Linked DNA regions of Homo sapiens: region 2 is linked to region 1. Evidence: fine-mapped expression QTL. A gene starts in region 1. The other region holds a variant in brackets. All regions are shown on one strand. Distances are from middle to middle. Region 1 holds the start of RAP1B (RAP1B, member of RAS oncogene family). Region 2 overlaps RAP1B (RAP1B, member of RAS oncogene family).

What was found. PIP is the estimated chance that this variant, and not a neighbour inherited with it, causes the effect. A credible set is the group of variants that fine-mapping cannot tell apart.
Region 2: its variant is the best candidate, but not a certain one, in a credible set for the expression of RAP1B in whole blood (TOPMed, PIP 0.51).

What each region holds. Positions count from the first base shown.
Region 1 is chr12:68,606,609-68,616,046 of GRCh38, reverse strand. It overlaps RAP1B (RAP1B, member of RAS oncogene family), which reads right to left and starts at 5,148. Exons shown (of 8, transcript NM_001010942.3): 1 at 5,004-5,148. RefSeq lists an enhancer at 1-360 and a silencer at 4,832-5,291.
Region 2 is chr12:68,648,768-68,658,205 of GRCh38, reverse strand. RAP1B (RAP1B, member of RAS oncogene family) reads right to left here. Exons shown (of 8, transcript NM_001010942.3): 2 at 9,425-9,438; 3 at 7,738-7,806; 4 at 6,155-6,211; 5 at 3,954-4,094; 6 at 1,757-1,900; 7 at 989-1,105. The coding sequence ends at 1,019. Among named protein-coding and RNA genes, the nearest start is that of SNORA70G, 26 kb to the right of the region's middle. The variant T/C (reference allele first, on the strand shown) is at 4,690.

The DNA.
Region 1 (9,438 bases):
GCTTGCAGTGAGCGGAGACCGTGCCACTGCACTCCAGCCTGGGCGACAGAGTGGGACTCCATCTCAAAAAAAAAAAAAATCCAAATTATTTACTAGAGTTTTTAATGGATGCTCACTTCCTTTATTCAGTCTATCTGCACAACAGTTAAAAACATTCAATCCCCCAGTACCGGAAAAAAAATCACAAGTTATGAAACCAGAATTCAGCTAAAATTTAAAAGGTCTCACTGATATATGTATATGTGTGTGTGTATGTATGTGTATATATATACACATGTATAACTACAAAAACATAAAGTAAAAGTAATTACAAGTAAGCTTTAGGAAATGGTTTGATATAAAACTCAAACTCACAAGATTAAATAATTACTCTCTATGGTCAGAGAGACAGATTTGTAACTCAAAAGAACATTTCTAGTATGCAGGCACCTCATACACAATCTAAGTAATTTTTTTTTTTTTGACAGTCTCACTCTGTCGCCCAGGTTGGAGTGCAGTGGAGCGATCTTGGCTCACTGCAACCTCCGCCTCCCAGGTTCAAGCGATTCTCCTGCCTCAGTCTCCCAAGCAGCTCGGATTACAGGCACCTCCCACTACGCCCAGGTAATTTTTTGTATTTTGAATTGTATACTGATATCACAGAATATACTCCTCCTGTACAATAAAAATCAGATGGAAATTCTGTAACTCATGTTGTAAATATTTTTATTTTAGGGAATTTAAATTAAAAAAAACTGGTACATTTCCCCCACATTTTCATTTTTTCCTGTTTTAAGGTTCTTTGGAAAGTTTTAAAAATTTTGACCCTCTACTGATTCAAAGGAAAAAAAATCTTTCTAAATTACTGCTTAAATAATCAGTTGCTACTGTACCCTTGATTTGACCAACATTAGGAATAAATAGTCCAATGTTATGAAATACGGAATGTAAGTGATACTATTTTTTGTTGCTGGTGAATTTTAAAAAGTGATGTTTTTAAGGCAGCACAAAAGTTCCTGATAACTTTTCTTGTTTAAAATAGAAACTCTCCACGACCAAAGAGACTTGTTTTAGAATCCAGTGCTCAACTGGGTTCAAAGTACAACAGATTACATACAAATCAGTTTTTACTGCAAATGGATAAATTCATCTATTCTTTGTAGCTACTGCTTCCACTGTGCTTATGAGATTTACAAAGAACTTAAGACCTCAAATGGCAATTAGTACCTTTCAATACCATTGCAAAATAATCTATGAACACAGAAAAACACTAGCTTCCAGAGCCATGGTACAGTACTCCTGTTTACAGATGGCTGAACTAAAAATTTTGTCCAATGTTACAATGAATCACTGCATCAGCCAAAATGTCTTAACTTGTTCTAAAATTCAATTCAATTTGAAAAGGCTAACAAAAACTTCAGCCTAATCTCTTAGACCATGGAGTCCTCAATAATGACAGGAGGGGGAAGAAAACCCAGGGCATATTTTTAGTCACAACCTATGTCTCAGAAAGTTTAAGACAGACCAATCTTTACCTAACTTTTCTATAGAGTGAACACGTGACATCACTGCTATAAAACAGCAGTAAATAGCTAATTCATAAATGCTAAATTACTCCTAGTGCCAGTCAAATCTAGAAACTGCAGATCAATACCCAACCTCCTCTTTAGCAACACAAACATACAGAGAAACACAGTTATTTTACATCTTTAAGGAAATGAGGCAAATCAGTAAGATCTGTGTGATAGTCGATAATAAAACAGCCTATTTAAACAATACTTATGGGGAAAAAGTAAATGGACACCTTGTAAAATCGGTCAAATTCTCTGTATCAGATCCAATTTCAGATTAGTTTCACTACCTCAATAAATATTTATCGAGTACCTACAACAAAAGGCAAAAAAAACCTGAACGTGAGCTTTTCATCCAAATCTTGGACTGCATTTAAAATAACATGTCTAATCAGTTACCATGTTATCAATCTTTGCATAGACCTTCCACCAATCTTGAATTAGATAGGAAGATACAATTGAAAGGATCCTTACAAAAATGGATCTAGTTATTTTAATAATTAATTCTTTGCTATACCCTCCTTACATGGTAGCTCTTTATTATGGGAGGGGGTCACTTTACCTTTATACAGCTAAGAGAAAATATTGGAATTCTGAAAAGGATTGAGGATAAAACGAAAATTAATTTGTCAAGTAAAAGGGATTCCAAAGCCAATATGTAAATGTTTCTTTTTAAAGGATTACACTGTTCTCTTCAAATATCCTCTCTTTGAATGTTCATTACCATTAATCCCTAAATTCAAACGCTAACCATTACACTGTGCCCAGGCAACGCGCTACACTGTGCCCAGGCAACGCGCTAGGAAGATTACTGTGAAGAATGAAATGGATTAAGTCCCTACCCTCATGGTACTTACATTTAACTGGTGTTGAATGTCTATTGCAAGGCACCATGCCAGTGCGTTAAGGCATACAAAACAATATATATCTTGTGGTTGGAGTTCACAATTCAATGGAATAAATAATATAAAATGGTAACAGGAGGCAGGAAGTAATGCGTGTCATAGAAGGTAAGAGAGATGACTTTCACGCGGTCGTGGGTGAGGGGAGAATGTAAAAGAGAGCAGAGCAATCATTTTCTTATCTCCTTTTTTTTTTTTTTTTTTTAAGACAGGTCTAGCTCTGTCACCCAGGCTGCAGTACAGTAGTGCAGTCTCGGCTCACTGCACCCTCCGCCTCCCAGGTTCAAGCTGGTTCATTCAATGTGAACCTCCCAGGTTCATATTCTCGTGCCTCAGCCTCCCGAATAGCTGGGATTGCAGGCGCGTGCCACTACACCCGGCTATGTTTTGTATTTTTAGTAAAGACGGGGTTTCACCATGTTGCCCAGGCTGTTCTCGAACTCTTCACCTCAAATGATCCGCCTTCCTCGGCTCGGCCTCCCAAAGTGCTGGGATTACAGGCGTAAACCACCACGCCCAGCCAGAGCAATCATTTTCATGCCCCATACAACATTTTAAAATTAAGTCAGTTTAGCATTGGTTCTTCAGTTATATTTTGATACCTGGCATATTAAAAACAACAAACTGGCTACATGTGTTCCAATGATTTACTTTAGGACTTCCTTAGATAAGGCAGCTTCACGATTTATTGTCAACGTCAAACAAGGAAATGCAAGTGAAAACACCTAACGTAGTACACATTAAAAGCACAGATGAGCTCAAATAAGACTAAAGGAAATGCAAGTGAAAACACCTAACGTAGTACACATTAAAAGCACAGATGAGCTCAAATAAGACTATCATTCAGGCTCTGTGTGCTTAAAGTTATTTAATCTGAGTATCAGTTTCCTCACCTAAAACCTGAGGATGAAACTACTCAAGTGGTTTTTTCTCCTATTTGACTAAGGTACCCACTTTTTAAAAGTGCGATATGGGAAGAATATTCTTTGTAAGATGATAATTCACTATAAAAACGTTGTATTTCTTTCTCCATGTTGTCTCTTACGGATAGACTACTGTCCTAAAGGTCAGTGGACCCACTAACTGGTTATCTTATCTAGGCCTCAGTTTCCTCCTCCATAAAATGACAGGGTGGGACTGGATGATCTAAATAGTCCCTTCCGGCCCTTAAAAAGTCCCATGACTCCACTATGACTCAATAAATACTATTTCAAGAGTCAGCTTTTAAGAATAATATGGGCTTGAAGTTAAATGAATGTCTCCCTTTTCTATAAGTTACTTTTTGTTAAGATAAGGTCTTGTTGAGCAAGTCCAAACAGTATTCTAATTACGAAAAAAGAGAGCTGAAAAATAAATTTACAAGTCAGAGCTTTAAATTGTTAAGTACTCGACATATATGAGATGCTGCCTGCAAAACCAAAATCCAATTAGACGGAATTAATTTTAAAATACTAAAATCACAATCTTCATTTAGTGTCAACTTTCTACCCCGTAAAAATGTGATTTCCCCTTACTGCAACACAGAACTGCTTCTATTCATACCAATCAGAAGTTACAGGGCCAAAATGTTTTTCTAAACTATTAAAGAGAGTGGGAGAGGGGGGAAAGCGAAGGGGAAGGAAACCATCTGCTTTAACTTGCAAAAATGATCTTTTCTCCAAAAGACATCAGTGTTTTTCAGAAGAAAAATCCGGAGAGCCCGGTTCACTGGGCGTAGTTTTAAATAAAATTCATGGCGCTGATAGTTTTAGGATTAGACACCTCGAGATGGCGAAAAAGAGAAGAGGACAAACTTCCTGGATTTTCTCTCCCTCTAAGAGAAAGAGATTTCCTCTTGCTGACGAAGGGAAAGGCCCCTTTAACAGTTTTTCTCTACACGGTGGCTGCTGCCAGACTAAGTGGGGCTCTCTCCGCTGCCTTCCTCCTGCCACTTCCCGCAACAAATGGAGCAAGCAAGCCCCGTTTCAGGCAAACTTTTTCGCTGTCAGGCTCAAGCCCGCGGGGCGCCTGGGAGTGGTTTCCCCCGAAGGCTCCTCGCCCTAGCTCGGGGCTGGGAGAAGCTAGGTCTTCGCAAAGGACAACTTTCTGGTTTCCGTTCTAACTTCCACCCATACCACGGAGGGAACCCAGGCGACAAGCGAGGGGGCTCGGGGCGGGGAGCGAGTCTTCGGGGGAGCCGGCGGGGAAAGGAGGGCGGCGGGAGAAGCTGCGGCGGACGCGGGCTGAAGAGAGCGGGCGGGTGGGGGGGTCCTCGGGCTCTCACTTCCTCCGCCATATTTCAGACATTTGACCCCTTCCGCAAAGCGCGCTGTTCTCCCGCGGCGGCGGCGGCTGCTCCTCCTCGCCGGCCCGCAAGGCAGCGCGCTCGCGGGCCCGGCGCCTGGCCCTCGCGCCACCTGCCGCGCGCCGAGGGGCTGCCGCCGCCGGGGCCCCTGACCGCCGCGCCCGGCCCGCGCCTCGCCGCACCCCACCCGCTCCCCTCAGCCGGCGCCCGGCCCCGCGCGGCCGCCGCCGCGGCTTCCCTCAGCGGCCACGCACTCACTCTGCGAACCTCTCACGCTGTCACCGGGTCCCTGCAGCCAGCGTCGCCCCGCGCTCCCCCCGGGTCGCTACTCTAGGCGCCACGGCGGTCCTGCCGCTGCCGCGCCGCTCCGGCTGGTTTACACGCCTGAATCTGGGCGAGGTTTGGCGATGTCGCCTTGACGTCAGGCGTTCAGCCTCGCTCCAGCTTCCGCCCGCGGGCGGGGCGCGCGGGTGCGCGGCCCGGGAAGGGGCGGGCCTAGGGGGCGGGGCGAGGGGAGCCGAGGGGGCGGGGCCGCCGCGCGCCGGGTCCTCGGCGCCGGCCTCTAGCCGGCCTGCATCGCAGCCGGAGCGCAGGCCCTGCCCACGGGCCCCTTAGCTGCCTCTGGGCGGCATGTCTGCCGAGGTTCTTCTCTCTAGCTGCGCCGCGCCTTCAGGCTCGCTTCCCCAGGCTGTCTGGTGGGCGGAATCCGCGCGTCGGTGTTCCTGACCCTCGTGGGTTCCAGTGGAACCCTCCGAAACCCAAAAGGCGCCGCCTCTTAATGCAAACTGTAGTCACCGACTCGTCCAGTCTGTTGGTATTCGCGTCGTCCTTTGTGCTGGGCAAAGTAACCGAGAAGTAACGGAGAGCGCGCATTTTCTACACCTAGAGCTCCCCGAGGGAGCCTGGGCCAGCAAGTCTTTCCATTCTTGAGATGCCTTTTCTCCTGGATTGACAAGTGTTTTATCCATTGGTGTCTTAACCCGGGCGAACTCTTTCCAAATTCCCATGCCAAACGCAGTTAACAAATCGATGATTTCTAAATAAGTTTGTACCCTGCACCTAAACCAACGCCATTTATATAACTAAAATAAATTGCGTATTTAAATGCATGTCCTGGACGCTTTATTCACTTCACAGGATTACCCATAGGCAAGTAGGTTTATCGTGTGACTTCAGGGCACCAGAAAACACTTTCTGTTCCAAAATGCCTCGTTCCAAAAAGGGCGGGAACTTAACACGGGAATTTACCATTCTTACTTACCCTTAGTACAAGAAATTTATCAGAACTTTTTCTTGAAGCAGTTTTGATGGGCGAGGAGATTAAGAGAGCAAAGTGCAGGGAAAAGGGATTGAGGGGTCATTTAAGACTAACTTTCTTGGTTCATAATTTAATTAGGCCCTGTACAAATTATTCTTGAAATAAATCTTAATAAACGTTGATAAATTTGGAAGATAAATGGAATGTGACTAATTTCACTCCGTTTAAGAATATGTAGTGATTGAAAACTAAGCTAACCTAAGTTAAATGAATAGATGAGAATGAATTATAACAGTTCTCTGTGTTTTATAATGTTTTACAATTTAGGTTAATTGAGTAGATTACCTATTTCGATAATTTCTATTTCCTTAGAAAAATATCTTTTTAAAAATTGTTTATTGTCTGCATTTATTGTGTATACAACATGATCGTTTGAAGTAATGTATACATTGTTACATTACCTCACAGAGTTACCTTTTTTTTTGAGAGTCTTGCTCTGTCACCCAGGCTAGAGTGCAGTGGCATGATCTCGGCTCACTGGAATTTCTGCTTCTCAGGTTCAAGAGATTCTCCTGTCTCAGCCTCCCGAGTAGCTGGGATGACGGGCGCGTGCCACCACGCCCAGCTAATTTTTAGTAGAAAGGGGATTTCGCCATGTTGGCCAGGCTGGTCTCGAATTCCTGACCTCAGGTGATGCGCTCGCCTGGGCCCCCCAAAGTGCTGGGATTACAGGCGTGACTCACCGCGCCGGCTGAGTTAGCATTTTTTTTTTCTTTTTTGAGACAGAGTTTCGCTCTTGTTGCCCAGGCTGGAAGGCAATGGCGTGATCTCGGCTCACTGCAACCTCCGCCCCCACCTCCCACCCTCGGGTTCAAGCGATTCTCCTGCCTCAGCCTCCCGACTAGCTGGGATTACAGGCATGCGCCACCACGCCCGGCTAATTTTGTATTTTTAGTAGAGACGGGGTTTCTCCATGTTGGTCAGGCTGGTCTGGAACTCCCGACCTCAGGTGATCCGCCCGCCTGGGCCTCCCGAAGTGCTGGGATTACATGCGTGAGCCACCGCGCCTGGCCTTGAGTTAGCATTTTTTTATGAGAACACTTAACATCCATTCTTTAGAAAACCTTTTTAAATAAAAGTTTCAAAGGCAAATTTCAGAGCAGTCCGTTGGAATTACTGTAACTTCTCAATGAATGAGTGAATTACAAATAAATTTGACTTTACTAACTTTTCAGTTATTGCATAAAAATTTGATAACTGAAAGTCTGAAACTTTGAGCTCACAGAAGTGTTACCTGGGAACACTGTGCTTTTTCTTTCTTTCTTTTTTTAGAAAAACTCTTTGTCCTTTGGGCAATTGATTTTTTTTTTCCAGAAAGAAATTGGTTTTAGAAAATTGAAGCTAGAATTTTTAGAGTTTGAGAGAACGTGTAAAATAATCTATTTAATTAAAAACACAGTTTCTCTTATTAGACTGGAAATCATTGTTATTTGTATTAAACTGTTATCACTATGCAGAGAATACCATAATCTGCATCTCTTAACACTGAACTCACTTTTCAGTTTGAGCCTCTTTCCTATTTATTTCCTTGACTTCTTCTCCAGGATATTCCACTGGCAATTTGCACTGGTCATGTGTGCAAACTGAACTCATCGTCTTTGTAACCAAACCAGTTTCTTTTCCTCTTCCTTTGTGAATTGTATCACCATCTTTTAAATTACCCAATCTTCAAGCCTGATACTTAGCTCTCTGCTCTTCTTGAATAATCCATCAATTGGCATATCTATTAGATAGTAATTCGACAAGGTCTTTCATTGTGTTTCCTCTTTTCCATTTCAACTAAGACCATACTTAGTTTTTAGTTGCCAAATTTAGTTTGGCAGAACTCATCCCCTGGACCTTTGCAGCCTGGTGGCCTCCAGTCTGTTCCTGCTGTGATCCATTCTATACATTGTTGCCAGATGATTATCTTAAAGCATACCAAGCAAGTCACTCCCTTCCTCAAAGAGCCTTCAATTACTCCCCACTCTACCAAAATAAAATTAAAATCCTGTGTCTCACTTTTTCCTTTCACTCAAAACTGATTTATAGTCAGAATGGACAGTGGACTTTTCATCTGGCCCACATAATTTGCTTCCCCATCTCTCTGTTGTGCATAGGTGAATGATTTCCTCTGCCTGGAATGCCCCTTCCCATTCCATCTCATTCTGCAAATACCTTGCCCATTATTCAAGGTTTATCTACTTTCTCTTAAGAATGAGCTTCTTGGCCAGGCGCGGTAGCCTATAATCCCAGCACTTTGGAAGGCAGAGGCGGGCGGATCACTTGAGGCCAGGAGTTCAAGACCAGGCTGGCCAACATGGTGAAACCCCATCTCTACTAAAAATACAAAAATTAGCTGGGCATGGTGGCACATGCCTGTAATCCCAGCTACTCGGGAGGTTGAGGGAGAAGAACTGCTTGAACTGGGACCCGGGAGGCGGAGGTTACAGTGAGCAGAGATCGCACCACTGCACCCCAGCCTGGGCTACAGAGTGAGACTCCGTCTCAAAAAAAAAAAAAAAAAAAAAGAGCTTCTTTTCTGATACTTCTAACCTTATGTATTCTCTTCTCTTTAGAATCCCTGAAACATTTTATTGCTGCTTTTCTTTGTCACTTGTGTTTGACCTTCCTGTGAATAGGGATTTGCAAACTTTTTCTGTCAAGGGCCAGAGAGTAAATATTTTAGACTTTGTGGGCCAGACAGATGGTCTCTGTTGCAACCACTCAACTCTACAGTTGTGGGACAAAAGCAGCCATAGATAATACATAAAGAATAGACCTGACTGTATTCTAATAAAACTTTATTTATGGACACTAAAATTTGAATTTCAAGTAATTTTAACGTGTCACGAAATGTTCTTTTTTTTTTTTTTTCTTTTAGCCATTTAAAAATGTGAAAATCGGCTAAGTGTGGTGGCTCACGCCTGTAATCCCAGCGCTTTGGGAGGCTGAGGTGGGAGGATCACTTGAACCTCAAGAGCTGGAGACCAGCCTGGGCAACATAGTAACAAGTAAGACCTTGTTTCTACAAAAATAATTTAAAATTAGCCAGGTGTGGTGGCACATGCCTGTTGTCCCAGCTACTTGGGAGGCTGAGGTGGGAGGATGGCTTAAGCCCAAGTCGAGTTTGAAGTTACAGTGAGCTATGATCATGCCACTACACTCCAGCTCTGGTGACAGAGCAAGACCCTGTCTCAAAAAGAAAAGAAAAGAAATGTCAAAATTGTTCTTAGCTTATAGGTGCACAAAAACAGGGGCGGCCTGGATTTGGCCAGTAGGCCATAGTTTGCTGAGCCCTGTACTCAGGGCCAGCTTCACAGGCATATGACTCATGCATGCAGTTGTACAGAGCCCTGTACTTAGAAGGGTTCCATGATTGGTTTAATGCTCTAATGTCACTAT
Region 2 (9,438 bases), 42 kb before region 1:
AAAGTGCTATGGCAGCACTGAGTCAATTAACATAGGAAGAAATAAGAGTCAGGAATGTCAAAGGTTCTTAAGAATAAATTAACAGTTTAACAATAAACAGTTTAATGACAGCTGAAGAGGAAACCATTATCATTGGCAAACAGCAGCAGCTAATAGTTGAGTGTTAACTATGTGCCAGGTACCGATGCAAGATCTGTGCAGCAAACCCCATGGTACACCTTTACCTATGTAACAAACCTGCACATCCTGCACATGTATCCTGGAACTTAAAAGTTGAAGGAAAAAAAAAAAAGTGGCACATGATGAACATGTCAGGGGTGTGTGTGTGTGTGTGACTGGCACATGATGAACATGTCAGGGGTGTGTGTGTGTGTGTGTGTTTTAAATTAGGGACGGTTGGCTGGGAGCGGTGGCTCACGCGCACGCGCGCACGTGTGTGTGTGTGTGTGTGTGTGTGTGTGTGTGTGTGTGTGTGTGTGTTTTAAATTAGGGACGGGGTTGGCTGGGAGTGGTGGCTCACGCCTGTAATCTCAGCACTTTGGGAGGCCGAGGTGGGCAGATCACGAGGTCAAGAGATTGAGACCATCCTGGCCAACAATGGTGAAACACCATCTCTACTAAAAATACAAAAAAACTAGCCGGGCGTGGTGGCACGTGCCTGTAATCCCAGCTACTCGGGAGGCTGAGGCAGAAGCATTGCTTGAACCTGGGAGGCGGAGGTTGCAGGGAGCTGATATTGCGCCACTGCACTCCAGCCTGGGTGACAGAGTGAAACTCCATCTCAAAAAAAGAATACTTATGTGAAATACTTTACTCATGATGATAAGTAAATAATTAATAAGATAGCATACTAACTCATGGATATCTTATAAAAATAAACCATTTATTTTTCAGAACCAACAAAAAGAAGTCTATACTTGCTTTCATGACAGAGTGCCCTTAATAAGGTTGAGTGATTAAAAGTTAGAGGAAAGATAAGTGAACATACCTGGCTCAGAGCTACAATGCATTTAGTATATTAAAGCAGCTGACATGATGACTTTTTGCGAGCCTTCCCAGGCACTGGAGTTTTTCTGTTAATTTGCCGCACTAGGTCATAAAAGATCTGCAAATACAATAATTTGTTTTAATTTACAGGAGGAACACCTATCCCCCCCAATGAAAAAAGTAAATTGAAAAAACAGAAATTTCCATGGATATAAATTAATGCCCAGAATTGTTCAGCTAAGGAATGAGAATAAAATCAGGTGTTATAACTGCCAAGCTCAAATTTTTGGGGAGTGTTAATATTGTGCTCCTTAAAATACTTAGTTGAAGGAGCTGCAGAGATCTTAACTTAGTTCAATTAGAACATTTACCATCACACAAAGAAAAAATCCTTTTAAAAACTGTAAGTTTTTGCTCTACAACATGACTTGGAGCCTTTCAAGAACCATGCATACTTTTCGGAATTTTACTCTATTTTTCATATAACATCCTTCATATACCTGAAGTCTTAATCTGTCTTCCCTATCCATGTATTTTCTGTCCAGTCTTCCTTTTTCATGGTAAATATCAATGTACAAGTATTTAATAGAGACTGAAATAGTATTGTTTATTTACTACATAGATACATTTAACATGAGGGTTTTTTTTTTTTGCCTGTAACATCAACATATTACCCTGAGTACATATTAACTTGGGGTTAAGACATTTTCCATTCATCTTCAATGTTGTACTTCAAATGAAGACCCATTTTAAGTATATTTGACCATACCTCATTAACATTTATTTTTGATTTTGCAGAAGATTCTAAGAATGCACAGTTGTTCCATTGTCTTGCTAGATTTTGACCTTGTTCCTTCCCTACAACTCTTTCATCTTCCAAGTCACACTTATTACCAACAAGAATCATTGGAACCTAAAAATACATTTGTGAGAGTAAAAATAAATAAGTAAATATGCTATATGAATTCAAATCAAAAGAATTCTAAGAGTCAAATCTAAGAATTACTTTTCATATGCCACAAAAAATATTAAATAATGTATAATAAAATTTACAGCCTTAACAATTTAATCTGTAACATAAACATAAGTATTAACTTTGATGTCAATTATCTCCACTGCCTTCTCTTTTCATGGAGATGCAAACGATAACTCCAAAGGGAAGAAAAGAGAGAAAGAAAACTCTCATATGTTAAGTAAAATGAACACAACCTAGTCAATGTAGACATAAATAAGACACTTTTACATAAACTTTTGAGAAAACAAGCTATGATCCTGTTATGAGAGATGGGGGGAAAAAACCTTAAAATTTTATCATAATGGACGGAAGGCTCCCAAAATAGAATTTTTAGTTTCTCATAGTCTTGTATTAAAAAAGTCAATCAAGGCCAGGCACAGTGGCTCACGCCTGTAATCCCAGCACTTTGGGAGGCCGAGGCGGGTGGATCACCTGAGGTCAGGAGTTGGAGACCAGCCTGGCCAACATGGCGAAACCCTGTTTCTACTAAAAACACAAAAATTAGCTGGGTATGGTGACACACGCCTGTAATTCCAGCTACTTGGGAGGCTGACACAGGAGAATTGCTTGAACTTGGGAGGCAGAGGTTGCAGTGAGCTGAGATCGTGCCATTGCACTCCAGCCTGGGCGACAGGGTGAGACTCCGTCTCAAAAAAAAAAAAAAAAAAGCCAATCAAAATTTACTAAAAATCAAGCCACTTATTAAATGGATTTACAAATTAAAAAATGTTCCCTGAGGTTGCTGTAATTATGTAGGGTCCCCCCAAATTCCCTTGTTTCAGAAGTCCAGAAAATAAAAGCATTTACCATGGGTGTCTCCCAGCTCTCACAATATTTGCTAAAATTAAACTGCAGTACAATGAGTCTTATTTATGTATTTATTTTGAGACAGGGTCTCACTATGTCACCCTAGATGGAGTGCAGTGATGTGATCTCAGCTCACTGCCAACCTCCACCTCCCAGGCTTAAGTGATCCTCCCACCTCAGCCTCCCAAATAGCTGAGACCACAGGCACGCGCCACCATGCTGGCTAATTTTTTTTTTTTTAAATTTCTGGTAAAGGCAGGGTTTTGCTATGTTGCCCAGGGAGGTCTTGAACTCCTGAGCTCAGGGGATCTACCCGCCTTGGCCTCCCAAAGTGCTGGGATTAGAGGTGTGAGCCACCATGCCCAGCCTGGTTCTTACAGTATGCAGATCAGCAAAACCAACACCACTTCGAAACTTGTTAGAAATGCAAATTCCTGGGTCCTACTGCTGACCTACTGAATCAGAAGCTCTGAGATCTCAGCCCAGCAATCTGTTTTAACTGGTCCTACAGGTGATTCTGATGCAAAATCAATTTTGAGAACCACTGCTATATTTAGTGTGATGAGGAATTAAACTCCATTATGGTAGACTCTGAAGGGGCACCTAAATTAATAATGTTAGAATCTAATGTATTTCTTGCCTTTAAAATCCCAGCACTTTGGGAGGCTGAGGCAGGCGGATCACAAGGTCAGGAGATCGAGACCATCCTGGCTAACATGGTGAAACCCTGTCTCTACTAAAAATACAAAAAACTAGCTGGGCATGGTGGCAGGCGCCTGTAGTCCCAGCTACCCGGGAGGCTGAGGCAGGAGAATGGCGTGAACCCGGGAGGTACAGCTATCGCACCACAGCACTTCAGCCTGGGCAACAGTGCAAGACTCCATCTCAAAGGAAAAAAAAAAAAGGAAGGGTGTAACATTTAATTTTCACAGGATAATGGCAAAGGAGGAAATTTCTCACTTTCCACATGATATATATTTGAAAACATGTATGGGTATTTTTGCCTTTCAAGGAAAAAGTTTAAAAAAACCAACACCCCCCCCCCAACCAAAATACACAAGCTTTAAAATGAATTTAAATTTAGACTTAAACAATTATAATCAGGGTTTTGAAATAAAATATATTTATTTGGAAGTCAGCTTACATCATCAGTGTCTTTAACTCGAAGAATCTGTTCTCTCAGGTCTTGTAAATCGTTAAATGTGGACTGTGCTGTGATGGAATAAACTAATGCAAATCCTTGTCCATTTTTCATGTATAAATCCCTCATTGCTGTAAATTGCTCCTACAATAGAAAGAAAGGAACGTTAAAAAACAATAATGTTTTGACAGTTATTTTTACAATTTTCACAGTCTATAATTATAGCTCAATGAAGAATACTGTAGTATTATGTAACTTTGTTAAAATTATAATCTATGACAAGATACTATTTGAAAAAATTGGCATTTTAGTTTCTTTTTTTTTTTGAGACGGAGTCTTGCTCTGTCACCACGCTGGAGTGCAGTGGCGCGACCTCGGCTCACTGCAACCTCTGCCTCCCGGGCTCAAGTGATTCCCCTGCCTCAGCCTCCCGAGTAGCTGGGACAACAGGCGCACACCACCATGCCCGGCTAATTTTTTTCTTGTATTTCGGTAGAGACGGGCTTTCACCATGTTAGCCAGGATGATCTCCATCTCCTGACCTTGTGATCTGCCCGTCTCGGCCTCCCAAAGTGCTGGGATTACAGGCGTGAACTACCACGCCCAGCTGGAAATAGGTTTCCTATTTAAAAACAATACACCAAAGTCGATTTATATACAAAAAATATACTCAAGTGGAACAGAAATATCCTGTCCCCAAAAGTTACTAAAGGCAGCTTTTAAAATACATCATCATGTA[T/C]AAAGCACCCCAACTGTATCTGCCAAGTTAATCTATTAGCTATGACTCAAATGCTGTAGTTCTGTAGGGCTCCATCAGCATGATCTAGACCATCCCATTTTCCCACACTACTTTTTCTTTGCTAGACTGTGAGCATTTGAAGGTAACAACACAGTGCCTGACATGTATCAGGTATTCAAACATTAGCTGAATGAATACCATACACCGAGAACAAATCTTCCCTTCATCTTCACATACCTACAAATTTAGTTTGTCTATAAATACGTTGAAGGAGAACAGATACCAATCAAAATATTTCTTTTTCTTTTGAAATGGAGTCTCACTCTGTCACCCAAGCTGGAGTGCAGTGGTGTGTTATCAGCTCACTGCAACCTCTACCTCCAGGGTTCAAGCGATTCTCCTGCCTCAGCCTCCCGAGTAGCTGGGACTACAGGTGCCTGCCACTGCACCTGGCTAATTTTTGTATTTTAATAGAGACGGGTTTCACCATGTTAGCCAGGCTGGTCTTGAACTCCTGACCTCAGGTGATCCACCCCCCTTTGACCTCCCAAAGTGCTGGGATTACAAGGCATGAGCCATCATACCCAGCTCAATCAAAATATTTCACACAGCTGCTGATGAATGAATGTATGCCTGTATTATTTGAAATATGGTAATATATTGTTTTAAAAGTACTAGTGAGACTGAAAATTTTTCTTCTAACACATTTTCTAAACTTTTCAATAACTGACCCACTGCAATTACAAAAAGTGCAATATACTTCCTCCGCCTCCCGGGTTCAAGCTATTCTCCTGCCTCAGCCTCCCAAGTAACTGGGATTACAGGTGTGTAACACCACGCCCGGCTAATTTTTTTTATATTTTTAGTAGATACGGGGTTTCACTGTGTTGCCCAGGCTGGCCTTGAACTCCTCACCTTAAGTGATCCACCCACCTTGGCCTCCCAAAGTGCTGGGATTACAGGCGTGAGCCACTGCGCCCGGCCAATATAAAATTAAGGATTCAACGGAACAACAACAAAAAGATTTAAAGTTTAGCAACTAGTAGTCTTATGTTTTTTTTTGACACAGAGTCTCGCTCTGTCACCCAGGCTGGAATGCAGTGGCACAATCTCCACAGTCTTGGCTCACTGCAACCTCTGCCTCCTGGGTTCAAGAGATTCTCCTGCCTCAGCCTCCTGAGTAGCTGGGATTACAGGCTCCCACCACCACACCTGGCTAATTTTTGTATTTTTAGTAGAGATGGGGTTTCACTATGTTGGCCAGGCTGGTCTCGAACTCCTGACCTCAAGTGATCCAGCAACCTTGACCTCCCGAAGTGCTGGGAATAGAGGTGTGAGCCACTACAACCGGCTGCAAGCAGTACTTTTAAATAAGCTTAACTAATATTTGTCTATAGAGTACTAGCATTTATGAAGTCAATACTGTACAAACGGTGTATATACTTTGGTATTTAGTTTTACCTACCGTTCCTGCAGTATCCAAGATTTCAAGCATACACTGTTGTGCATCTACTTCAACTTGCTGGTAGAAAAATTAAAATACATGTTCATTTTTTCAATGTACATAAAACTACCTTAATATACACAAAAAAGCTAATGTATCAAAAATAAGACACACAGATTTTAACAACTTTACAAACTAATATCCAGCAATACTTCAACAAAGCAGGAGGAAAAATAGCTAAGTAATCAAGATTCAAAGACCCCCAAATTGTAATCAAGTTCAAAAGCCATGTGTTCTCAAGTCAACACAGGGAAACCTACACGAACCAGTCTCAATATGGATTCTCAGCACTTAATTCTAGAGAAAAAAATAGTTTCGAAATAGCTCAAATAAACAAACAAAACCAGCAACAGTTCCAACAGTATCATAAGTAATTCTGTCTAAATTCTCCCATGATACTTTAGATATACCTCATTTCTCTAGGTAACTATATGCCCTCACCATACTGGAACAAGATTTCTGGAATTAAGGAAGCAGTGGCACAGCTATTAAATAAATTACACATATATCCCTGTTACCCCTTTCCATCTAATATTTCCTAGGGAAAAATAGGTATTTAGAATTAGATGTAGAAAGAAAAGAGTAATACTGTCTCACAGCTGGGGTGCAAAAGTTTCCAGTTTTTTTTTTGGTAGACTATGCACATGGAGGGAGGAATGGAAACACAGTATTTGTGCAACAGCGGGGCCAGGTTGGCTGCTTCATAGAGGTTGGGAAATACCTCTTTCCCTACTAAGTTAAAAATGTCTACACATTGTTTTATTGTCACATGCTGTTAGTGGACACAGGAATTCACCTTTCTATAGGCTGAGCATCCCTAATCTAAAAATCCAAAACTTGCAATGTTCCAAATCCAAAAGTTTTTGAGCCATGTGTGGAACATCACGCTACAAGTGGAAAATTCCACACATGAGCTCATGTGACCAGTCACAGTCAAAATGCAGCCAAAACTTTGTATCATGCATAAGAATATTAAAAATATTATGTAAGATTATGTGTATGAGGTGTATATGAAACCATGAATTGTTTAGATGTGGGTCCCATTCTATTTCATTATGTATATACAAATATTCTAAAATCAGAAAATAATCTGAAATCTGAAATACTTCTGGTCCCAGTTATTTCAGATAAGGGATATTCAACCAGTATTGTGAGTGGTGGCACTTTCTCAAGAGGTTAGTAAGTAGAAAGCTTAGGAAGACCTGTGTCCACCTATTTCTAGGTTAAAAAGAAGGGAGCTTGAGAGTAATCAGTCTTGCTAGGTAGGGGACTGAAAGTAACATGGGGCTACTACTTGAAATGGATGGTCTGCTTTAAAGTTTATGTGTCAAATTACAAAAAATTCTGTGAATATGTGAGAGTATGGGTGTTTATGATCCTCTTAAACTGGTAACTATGCAATGCCAGAAAGTGTAAACTTTTCCCACTAATTTTATAAATTAACTCTGCCTCCATCCTTTGTATAAAACATTCAATAATTATAAAGCTAAAATAAGTATTTATATTAAAATCAAAAGCAAAAGGCCTTCCAAAGTAATATATACCTTTCTATAAGAATCTTCTATCGTAGGATCGTATTTTTCTACAAAAATTCCTTGAACAAATTGTACAGTCTGAAAAAAAAATTAAGAAACCATTATACTTCTAAAGAAAAGAGTACATTCAATCTTTAATGTAATTGTAAACTGAGTTCACACAGGGAGTTACACCATCAATGAAAAAAAAAACCACAGCCAATACTACATTCGAATGTGTACATTTGGTAAGAAAATTACCTCAGGAAGCTGTTTATTTTTAAATAAATAATCACTATGCTCCTTATTGGGTAATTCTAAATTTAGAGATCATATATTAAAAAATTTTAAATGTCTCTGGTTTCAGTCCTTTGTTTTTTTTCTTTGAGACAGAGTCTTGCTCTGTCTCCCAGGCTGAAGTGCAGTGACGCAATTTTGGCTCACTGCAACCTCTGCCTCCCGGGTTCAGGCCATTCTCCCACATCAGCCTCCCGAGTAGCTGGGATTACAGGCATGCACCACCACACCTGGCTAATTTTTATATTTTTAGTAGAGACGGGGTTTCACTATATTGGCCAGGCTGCTCTCGAACTCCTGACCTCAGGTGATCCGCCCACCTCAGCCTCCCAAAGTGCTGGGATTACAGGCGTGAGCCACTGTGCCGGCATTGTTTCAGTCTTAAGAGCTTAAATTTGATTTTTAAATTAGAAATTGACTAATTGTTATGTATACACACATACATGCAGGATCAACTGACCTCCCCATCACTTTGGATACAAATGAAAAAGCAGTTCATTTCACATTGTATGTACTTCTCAGTTTGTTCCAAGCATGACACTTCTCAGCTAGGTGGCCTTTCTAAGTGGCCAAGATGGTTTATCTTATGAGTGAGACAGAAGGTCAATCTATTTGCTTGTGAGGCTTTGCTAAGCTCTGAACTATTCATCAAATTATTTTCCCTACGTTTTTCCTCTTTCCCAACCCTCATTACCCAGTTATGTCTTCATTCTTGCTATACCATTCCTTGATGCAGAAAACGTGCCGTTAAAAAATGTAAAGCTGGACAGTCAAAGGTAATATTTGAAGACTTTTTATAAGCTTTGATATTTTCTAACATAAAATGTACAGGGTAAGACTATTCATAAGAAGAAAGAGCAAGCCAGGCATGGTGATTTATGCCTGTAATTCCAGCACTTTGGGAGGCAAAGGTGGATTACTTGAGGCCAGGAGTTTAAGACCAGCCTAAGCAATATAGCAAGACGCCATCTCTACAAAAAATTTTAAAAATTAGCCTGGCATGGTGGCACGTGCCTGTAGTCCCAAGCATTCAGGAGGCTGAGATCACTTGAGCCCTAGCCTGGGCAACAGAGTGAGACCCTGTTTCAAAAAAATAAATAAATAAAAAGACCAAAATTTATTCCTATCTGGCTCTGAAATGCGAATGCAAAAAGACATGTATTTGTACGCTCTCAATCTCTGTGCTTAGCTCAAATTGTATTCCAGCATAACTCGTGTCATTCTGGAGTCAATGTTCCAGAGAGAATATGATCCACCCAGATATAATTAAAAGTTGAATAAAATTACAAGAAAAATATTATATTGCTTCTAAAGTCATTAAGGAATTTTATCTTAACAAAGACAAATCATCAAAACCTAAAACTCAACAGAAAAAGAACGTCTTGGAGTGAAAGGCTTAGGTAAAGTAAGAATGACTTACCAAAGCAGACTTTC